Regions from separate parts of the Homo sapiens genome. Here region 1 is linked to region 2. The links come from fine-mapping of genetic effects on gene expression. A gene starts in region 2. The other region holds a variant in brackets. All regions are shown on one strand. Distances are from middle to middle. Region 1 overlaps AMPH (amphiphysin). Region 2 holds the start of TRG-AS1 (T cell receptor gamma locus antisense RNA 1).

The links.
Region 1: its variant is fine-mapped to the expression of TRG-AS1 in whole blood (INTERVAL, PIP 0.92).

Annotation. Positions count from the first base shown.
Region 1 is chr7:38,432,571-38,437,570 of GRCh38, reverse strand. It overlaps AMPH (amphiphysin), which reads left to right. Exons shown (of 21, transcript NM_001635.4): 12 at 1,183-1,299. Among named protein-coding and RNA genes, the nearest start is that of TRG-AS1, 94 kb to the right of the region's middle. RefSeq lists a silencer at 3,353-3,571. The variant C/T (reference allele first, on the strand shown) is at 3,047.
Region 2 is chr7:38,339,103-38,344,636 of GRCh38, reverse strand. TRG-AS1 (T cell receptor gamma locus antisense RNA 1) reads right to left here and starts at 3,216. Exons shown (of 4, transcript NR_040085.2): 1 at 2,838-3,216. It also overlaps TRG and the pseudogene TRGV6.

The sequences.
Region 1 (5,000 bases), 93 kb before region 2:
TCACCTCCTGATCTGCCCACCTCGGCCTCCCAAAGTGCTGGGATTACAGGCATGAGCCACTGTGTCTGGCCCTCACTTTTCATACATTTCTCAGTTTTTAATGTCTGTGATGAATATTAATTAGAATAACTCCTATTCTTCAAAAATCTGTCTCCAAAAATCTGTTTTTATGTATACTTTACCCATTGGTTTGACGTTTCAATTTCTAGGCAACAAAGTTTTTTTAAAAAGAATTTTATATTGAATGCTAAACACATGTAATTTAAATTGTATGAAAACTGACCCCAACTCCCTTTTCTGTGATGTACTTTATGGGACTTTGTCTTAGCCTGGCCCTTTACTGTGTAACTTGAGCCTGGGTTATGCTGACTTCAAGCCCACATTGTTTTCATGTATTATGATACCACAAATAAATGAACAAATGATAATGTTTAGTATTATAGATTTTTTTGTATTATCAAAGCAGGACTTTCGTCCTGTGTCTTATTTGGCTTACCTTCTTTCTAATCCAAAAATATTATTAATGGGAGCTCATTTTGCAGCAAATGTTGGGAGGCATGGCTGTCTCTCTCCTCTCTCCCTCCCGTTCACCCTCACTCATACACATACACAATTGAAACTAACAATGCTATGGATGAAGACTGGATCAAATGATAACCAAATCAAGGGGTAGGGTACCAGTGAGGGAATGAGGCCGTTGGGATGTGGTCAGCAGTACACAATGGCACCTTCCTTTTAAAATTTTAGCTTCCCAGAAGAACATCAGCAGTATTGCTATAATGAGTCCAGATCTTGGCCCATTTTATCGATTGGGTCATCTGTAATTTCTTGATCCAAGTTCTCTGAGCTGACAGAGGAGACTCCTTGCATCTTGGTATATTAGGATACATCCTTGGAACATTCTCTCTGTTGACTGGACTTGGAGCTAGACAAAGGACAAGAGCTAGAGCCTGGGACACATTCCAGGGCAACTTAGGTTATACTTGGCCAGAGTTAGTTATTTCCTTCTCACTGCATTTAGCTGAGTGACTGGGTGCATATGGGTGAGCCACCATGCTTATAAAAGTGTGTTTTGGAGATACTCAATAATAATATTAGAGAGAGTATACATGGGCTATATCATGGTCTTATCAGATTCAAGCTAATACATGTTTTATTTTGTTTTGTTGTTTGCTTTAACAGAATGAAGTCCCTGAGGTGAAGAAAGAGGAGACTTTGCTGGATCTGGACTTTGATCCTTTCAAGCCCGAGGTGACACCTGCAGGTTCTGCTGGAGTGACCCACTCACCCATGTCTCAGGTATCAGGTGCTTTTTGGATGTTTGGAGATATTTCATAAACCTCAGTAAGCTCAGTGTGGTAACCAATGATCCCTATACCTTTCATGACTACTATCTATTTTTATTTTTGGTTGACAGATATTTCCTAATAGGAAAGAGGGGTAGAAAGGGGACCTTATCTATATCAGTTATTCTAAGACTCCCATGCCATCAGCTTTCTCTACCCATAGAGCTGGCATAACCATACATTCCTGTTTTCTCCCCCAGAGTAATTGTTACCAGTGCCCACGTTGCACTCAGAACTGTTCAGGTTTACAGGATACATTTTATGGTTTCCCTGGATGAAGCTCTTTCTTTTGGTTTTGGGTTTACTCTTCTTGCTCTTTTCTCTACTTCCCTTCCTCATACTTTGCAAGTTAAAGTGTGTTTGCAATGACCATGAAAGCACGGGCCAGCAGAAGCCGTTTTCAGTGTTGATCGTTCTGAACTTGATGATGCTGTGTTCATCCTCCCCATTGAAGAAGCTCCCCTCCTGTGATCATGGTTATGGTTTGATGGAGAGTCGCCTTGCTTCCCCAAGCCTTTTTGCTCACCACTCCCTCACACTCCATATTTCTTCCTTTCTTATAGTAACTGTCATTACATTCTCTGTCAGAGGATACTGGTGGTAGGTGCCATAATGACCTGTGGGTAGGTCCTCTGAAATATAGTTAGTTTACAACTGTCTGTGCTAATAGAAGGAAGTTAACTCAAAATTTGACAAAACAGAAACTGTTTATATAAGTACTTTGCATATGGTTGGAGCCCCACATATGAATTTAGGCAAATCCAAAGTTGCTAGAGTATGCTTCAAATGAATTAGTACAAGAATATTGTAACATTCAACCTAGGAATTAAGACCTAGCTTGATTCCCTGGCCTTGAAGCCTTCTTGGTATATCACAGTAAACTGCTAGGGAATAAATGGCTCAATATGAACCTTAATAAATAAGGATTATGTCTAGTCCATGCTTTTTTCTAGAATGTGATTGGGCTTCTAAAGGCTTTCCTGTTGTGCAATATGAACAATAAATGTCCAAGGTGTTAATAAAGTAAGAAATTAATAGTCTAAACACTAGCCTTGAAGATGCTTTGCAAAAAACAAAAGGGTCTCTTAGGTGAAAGTTCCAGGAAGCCTCCTGTATTAACTCTCTTCTAGAAGATTCATGATGTGCATTAGAATATTAAAGGCTGAGAAGTTCTGCAATTTAAAAAAACTGTTTATATTTGTTTAACTTAGAGTTTCCCAAATTTGTTTGACCACAGAAATCTATGTTAACTACACTTTTCTTAATATTCATTGGAATGTTCTCTAAAACAATATTTTGAGAAATGCTAAAGTATTGTCAACAAGTTTGAGGGTTCCACCTTGGTGACCAAGAAAAGTACAAAGTGAATGTACATATAATTGAATATACTTCCTTCTCAGAGATTTCTCATTATATAGACAGCCTGCAGAATTCACAGGATTTCCTCTGCCTTACTCTCCATGCTTCTTTTTTTTTTTTTTTCTTTGAGATGGAGTCTTACTCTGATGCCCAGGCTGGAGTGCAGTGGTGCGATCTTGGCTCACTGCAAGCTTCACCTCCCTGGTTCACGCCATTCTCCTGCCTCAGCCTCCCGAGTAGTTGGGACTACAGGCGCCTGCCACCACGACTGGCTAATTTTTTGTATTTTTAGTAGAGGTGGGGTTTCACCATGTTTGCCAGGATGGTCTCGATCTCCTGAC[C/T]GCGTGATCTGCCCACCTCGGCCTCCCAAAGTGCTGGGATTACAGGCATGAGCCACCATGCCCGGCCCATGCTTCATTTCTTTTGTGGCAGATGCAAAGTTTCTGCAGTGGATGCTGGAATGATTAGTGGGTGAGATTTCATAGCATTTCTGTCTACAAGTTTGAATCAGGAGAGAAACCTCTTTTATGTTAATTCATGATTACATTAATCCATAAATCATGAAACTGTGTGTGGCCTTATGACTAAGAGATTCTTCAAAATTAAACAAAAATGACCTTGGTTTAATCTTCAAAAGTTTTAGTTCTGAAGGACATATATCACCGCAGTGACGGCAAGCTGTGTGTGTCCCTGTGCTCTTCCTCAGGGCCAGGTAATAAAACCCTCTAGCCTCCTGGTGGCCATAACTGAGTCATTACACTATAGTTGTCCTGCAGTCCAGCTTTGATCATACCTCTCCTCTTTTGCTAAGAACAAAAGTCTTGACTGAATGACAAAAAAAGCATAGCACTGTTAGGTCTGCCTGGTTTCTTTCCTCTTCACTCAAAATGACCTCCTTTACCCATCACCTGACCCCATGTTTTCAAGTGGTGTTCTTGCTGCTAGCAGAACACCTCATCTTGTGATCTCTGCAGTATCTGTGCACGCTAACGCATCCTTTCATGATCCTGAGGACTGATAAACATGACATTTCATATTTCCTGCCTTCCTTTTAAAGAAAATAACTGGTGATGTGTGCATTATACAGAGACATGCACTAGCTTTTATGATCTTTGATTCTTTTTTTTTTTTTTTTTTTTTTGAGACGGAGTCTCGCTCTGTTGCCCAGGCTGGAGTGCAGTGGCAGGATCTCGGCTCACTGCAAGCTCCGCCTCCCGGGTTCATGCCATTCTCCTGCCTCAGCCTCCCAAGTAGCTGGGACTACAGGCGCCCGCCACTACGCCCGGCTAATTTTTTGTATTTTTAGTAGAGACGGGGTTTCACCGTTTTAGCCGGGATGGTCTCGATCTCCTGACCTCGTGATCCGCCCGCCTCGGCCTCCCAAAGTGCTGGGATTACAGGCGTGAGCCACCGCGCCCGGCCATGATCTTTGATTCTTAAGTGGCTATGAAGCAATGAAATGAGAATCATCTAGATAATCAGAAAACATATATTAGATCCATGTACAAAAAACTGTGGCTTTCCATGGAGCTGTTCTCTCCTGTCTTAGTCATCCTACGAGAAAATGCTAAGCAAGAGACCAGGCAGGCTGCATGGAGATGCAAGGCAGGCCATGCAGAACGGTTAGAATGGGACCCAACCAGGTGGGTGGGTATCAGAACCACAGGGCCTGCTTTCTATAATACGGAGCCCAAATGAGGCCTCTGCAATCTCAACCGAAAACCATCATATTTTTAAGGTGGCAATGCCAGGCTCTCTAGTTTGCTGTTGACATTTAGTAGTTCAAAATAAGTGCATAAACGTGGATCCATTCTAGTCACAAAGACATGGGCATAATCGGATGTGGCTTTAGCAGCAATTCTCAATCATAAAGGAAATAAGAAAGAGAAGTCTTCCCTGCTCCCCTCACCCATAGTGGAAGCCATTTGAACCATCTGGCCTCACTCCCCGGGATTCATAAGCTTTATAATTAAAATACCAGTAGTAAGTGTAATTCATTCATGTCTTAGGGGGTGCTCTGCCAATTTGTATGATTACCAATTCATTGAGCAGTGTGTTATCATCTAATTTAACATATTGAAGAACTATTTTTCTGGGGCTCATTTACCATTAAGCTGGTCATCCTACATCCTCTTGAATGAGATGGGAAGGAAATAGCATTAGCAGTGATTAGGGCCTGCATTTCCTCAAAGATGTGACAAGCTCTAAAATTTGGACACCTTGTTTACTTCATTTTAATGAGGTGTGTGTGTGTGTGTGTGTGTGTGTGTGTGTGTGTATTAAAATAACCTCATT
Region 2 (5,534 bases):
ACTGAATCATTTATCCAGTCATGGTCCAGAGATCACAGCTGAGAGTGGTGCTTATTCCTTATGTCTATAACAATATAAGCAATAGTATAATGACCACTAAAACACTAGGCCTAGGTATGCAGTTGAACATTCTCTCCCTCTGCCCTCCCTTTTATTCTCTCTCTCTTTTTTCTTACTTCTTTGCTTGTTTTTATTTTTCTCTCCCTCCCTAACTCCCTCCCTCCATCCATCCTTTCCTCCCTTCCTCCCTTGTTTCCTTCCATCCATTCTCCTTCCTTGTTTTCCTCCTTCCTTCCTTGTTTTTCTCTCTCTTTCTTTCCTTTTTGGGTACATAATGAGAATACTTTTTCCACAAAATCATTTGAAATAATTTTTCTCTATTTGTTCATGCCAACATTTATACAGCTAGTTTAACTGTTCAGTTTTCATTTTTACATTTTGGAAATTTGTTGTATTACTTTGTTTTGTTTCAAATCTGTTTTGTATATATAAAATATTTACATGGAACTGAAGTCAAAATCATAAAAGGTGATGCATTTGAAGATTTTAGCTTCCATTGTAGATTTCTTGTTCCTCTTTTCTCCCTGACACTACAGGTAACAATATTTTTGTCAGTTCACTTGAGCTGTTTCACTCTGTTTGTCATAGCAGAGTATGTATTGTTTCTATTTCAATGCCATATTTATATTTTCATTCTGATATTTGGTTTTTATACATTTTAATAAATCTTATATTTTCCTGTGTCTGGATTGTGTGTCTTACTTCTAAAGGTGCACATACTTCATAAGTATGCATAAAGACGTCCATATCATTTATTTGAATGTTTTTATGTGTTGATTATTTAATGATGGCATCATTGATCCATCAGGAATTTTTATACAATAATTACTGTATTAATAACAATAATACTGGCCACGCCCGGTGGCTCATGCATGTAATCCCAGCATTTGGCCAGTCCAGTCATTAGGATCACTTAGGCCGGGAGATTTGGACCCGCTCAGCCAACATGGTGAAACCCTGTCTCTACTAAATATACAAAAAATTAGCCGGCTGTTGTGGCGCACACATGTAATCCCAGCTACTTTGGATGCTGAGGCAGGAGAATTTCTAGAGCCAGGAAGGTGAAGGTTTCAGTGAGCTAATATCACACTACTACAGTCCAGTTTGGGCAATAGAGTGAGACTCTGTCTCAAAAAAATGAATAATGATAATAATAATATTGATGGTACATATGGGTGCTGACATTCTGGTAGTTAATGTACTAAGCACATTGCATGCACATTTTATTTAATCTACACAGAAACTTCATTAAGGGTTTAAAGTACCGTTGAATGTAACATAAGAAATTGGGGGGTTAATTAACATTCCCTAAGTCATATACTTTAATTTAATAATGATGGCAATCCAAGCTCTGTGGTTCTGAAAATGAGATTTGTTAATTTGATTTGCATTCCCCCATCTTTAGGAGTACTAGCAATATTTGACAACGTTATAGGTCATTTATAGTTCTTCTTTTGAGAATCGCCTTGTGATACTCTTTGCCTATTCTCCTTTTGGAGGATTAATTTTTTCTTATTGGTTCGTAAGAATTAATATATACTATTTTAGAGATACTGACCCTTTATCCAATGTGTTGAAGATATTACTCCTCATGTGTTATTATTTACATTTGGCACCTATGGTGAATTGAACTTTGAAAAATAAAATAATATCTGTCCATTTTTCTAGGGTGTCTAGTTTGATGCCAGGCTTAGAAAGGCCAATCTCACCTAGAACTTCTATGCAATTCATCATCGTTTAAGTCTAATGATTTTCATTTTATTACAACTAAATCACTATTTGTAACTAGTAAGGTAGAAATGCAACAATATTTGTTTCCATACAGTAAGTCAATACCAAAAAGAGAACTTATTAAATAATTGACTATTTCCTTGTGAATATTAATATATCACTTTATCACATGATAAAATATTACATACATGCAGCTCTCTTACTGCATTTTCCACTGTGTTCCATGAATCTTCTCATTCTAGTGCCAGTATTGCCCTCTCTTCAGCACTGTAGCTTTATAGTTCTTTTCACATTCTGATGAAGTTTCTCTCATTTTTTTGTTTTAAGAATTTTCTGTGCATTCTAGTGTGATCTCAATCCTCTCCCTTCCCAGTTTTAAACCGTGAGACTTCTGTCCAGCAAGACTTTTTCACGCTCCAAGGCAGGCAAGCTTCCCTCCTTCACAGGGACCCGAGAACTCAGCTTTCAGAGCTGTTCCTGCGGAAGCCTCATGTCCTCCACGTGTGCTCCAGAGGCAGAGGGAGACCAACTGGAGCCCCTTCCCTTTCTCATTCCCAGCTGTGATGACAGCAGAAACTGCAAAATTTGAGCTAGGACAACACAACAACCAAGAGAGACATTGTTCTACATCTCATTATGCATATTTCAAACATGTGTCTCTATATACTTCTTACAGAGGTGGTGGTAATCTGTGCATGCCCTACTGAATTTTCACAATTATATTACTGTACTTGTTTTGTCCCCTTATTTCCATCTGTGAATCCAGGTGCACTGCAGATATTAGTCTGCTTTCTGAGGGTAGGGATGACAAATAAAATATACAATACCCAGGGAATTTGGAAGTTCAGATATATAACAAGTTTTTAGTTCAAGTATGTTCCAAATATTTCATGACATGGCACCCAGTACTACTTTAAAAACAAACAAGCAAACAAACAAACTTACACTCCTACTTTAATGAACAAAAATTGTCTAATAAAGAGATCACACCCACAGGATTACAGGCACCCCCCCCCCCGCCCCCCGCCACACACACACACATTTACCTTAGAGCAGAGTCCAAGGCCCACCAACACACATGATCCTCAGTCCTTTTAATAAAGAACATTCAACCCTCCTCAGAGTGGCCTTGGGCAGTTGCCTCCAAGTGTCCTTGCAGATGTGAAAAGGAAGTTGGTTCACAGCCCTAATCAGAGGCTTCCTGGCAGGACAAGGTCCTGGCATCAGCATTAGCTGCTGCAACTCTGAAGGGCAGGGTGTGAGCCTGCTGTGGGACTGCCCCCTCCTAGGGCTGGGCCTGCTGACTCCAGGGGTCAGCTTTCCCCATATCTGCACTCCCTCTGCTGGAGGCCTGAACTCTCCATGCCCCTGGCTCTCTTCTGCAGAGGGCCTGCTCTCAGCTGCCACAGAGGGTGCTGCAGAACTGGCCTGAGCAGAGAGGCAGGAGCTCCTCTGCAGGTCCTCCCAGGCACCACCCTTCTGGAAGGAAGGCGTGGGAGTCCCCTAAGACACATCCTCAGTCACTTCTCCCTGCTTGTGACTCAGGAAGACCAGCCTTCCCCACTGCCTTCTGTGCTAGGGATCACTTCCTTGTTGAGTGGGACCTGAGTTTTGAGAGGATCTTCTGCTCCTGTTCATCTGGGCCCTTTCTTTCAAGACCCCAGAGACGAAGGCATGTGGTGGGCCCTAGCCCTGCTTCTAGCTTTCCTGTCTCTTGGTAAGTGTGCTGCCTACAGAGAGGCTCACAGGTTGGGTTTTGTTTTGGATTTTTCTTCTTTAGCAAGGGACGCCATACTAAGGAATACCTCATTATATTTTATGTTGTTCCCATTGCAGCCAGTCAGATATCTACTAACTTGGAAGCGAAAATAAAGTCAGGCACCAGGCAGATGGGGTCATCTGCTGTAATCACCTGTGATCTTCCTGTAGAAAATGCCTTCTACATCCACTGGTACCTACGCCAGGAGGGGAAGGCCCCACAGCATCTTCTGTACTATGACATCTGCAACTCCAGGGATATGTTGGAATCAGGAGTCAGTCAGGAAAGCATGATACTTATGGAAGTAGAAGGATAAGCTGGAAATTTATACCTCCAAAACTAAATGAAAATGCCTCTGGGGTCTATTACTGTGCCACCTAGGACAGGCAGAGTGATTCAGACCTGCTCTACACCACACTGAATATCTGTCTTGTGGCTGCTTCTGGTACACAAGAGAGAGCCGTCCCCTCTCATTTCCTGCCCTGAATTTACTGTATTCTGTACAAAGAGAAACAGCTTAACTCCTGATCTCCCCCCTAATATTACACTCTCCTGTCAGCAGCTGTACCCTGTTCCCCACCCTCCCCCAGGACTTTCCTGAAGACTAAGCTGCCATCTCAGCTAAGCCTCAGCTAAGCAGCCTGGCTGAGAGCAAGGTTTTCTCAGCTCTCCTAGGACATGGGGGAGGCCCACTCACTCTGTTTCTTAGGGTCCAGCTGTGAAGCGAGATATTTTGGACAGCAAATGGGAAGGGTATTTATACTGAATCATGTATCCAATCATGGTCCAGAGATCGCAGCTGAGAGTGCTGCTTACTCCTTATGTCTATAACAATATAGGCAATATTATAAATACCACTAAAACACTAGGCCTAGATATGCAGTTAAACACTCTCTCCCTCTGCCCTCCCTTTTATTCTCTCTCCTTTCTTACTTCCTTGCTTGCTTTTATTATTTTTTCTTCCCTCCCTCCCTCCCTCCCTCTCTCCCTCCCTTCCTTCCTTCCTTTTTTCATTTCTTCCTTCCTTGCTTTTCTCTCTCTTTCTTTCCTTTTTGGGTACATAATCCGAATATTTTTTCAACAAAATCATTTGAAATAATTTTTCTTTACATGTTCATGCCAACATTGATATAGCTAGTTTATTTGTTCAGTTTTCATTTTAAAATTTTAGACATTTGTTGTATTATTTTGTTTTGTTTCATATTTGTTTTGCATATGTAAACTATTTACATGGAACTAAAGTCATAATTTTAACGAAGATGCATTTGGAGATTTTAACTTACATTCTAGATTTCTTTTTCTCTCTCTTTTTTTTTTTTTTTTTTTTTTGAGACGGATTCTCAGTCTGTCACTCAGGCTGGAGTGCAGTGGAGCAATCTCGGCTCACTGCAACCTCCGCCTCCTGGGTTCAAGAGATTCTCCTACCTCAGCCTCCCAAGTAGCTGGGATTTCAGGTGCCCGCCAGCACATCCAGCTAATTTTTGTATTTTTGGTAGAGACAGGGTTTCCTCATGTTGGCCTGGCTGGTCTCGAACTCCTGACCTCAGATGATCCCCCTGCCTCGGCCTCCCTAAGTGCTGGGATTACAGGCATGAGCAACCTCACCAGGCCCCATTCTGGATTTCTCTTTCCTCTTCTCTCCCTGACCCTATAGGTAACAATATTTTTATCAGTTCAGTTGAACTTTTTCACTTTTTCTTATTCAGAACAAGTCTTTCAGTATTACAGAAAAGTCTTTTGTTTGTCATAGTGCAGTATATATTGTTTCTATTTGACCGTCATATTTATATTTTCATTCTGATAAGGTTTTATACATTTTAATCAATCTTTTATCTTCCAGTGTCTAGATTTTGTGTCTTGCCTCTAAAAGTGCATACACTTCATAAGTATGAATAAAGAAGTCCATATCATTTATTTGAATGCTTTTATTCATAGACTATTTAATGATGGCATCTCTGATCTATTGGGAATTTTAATACAATAA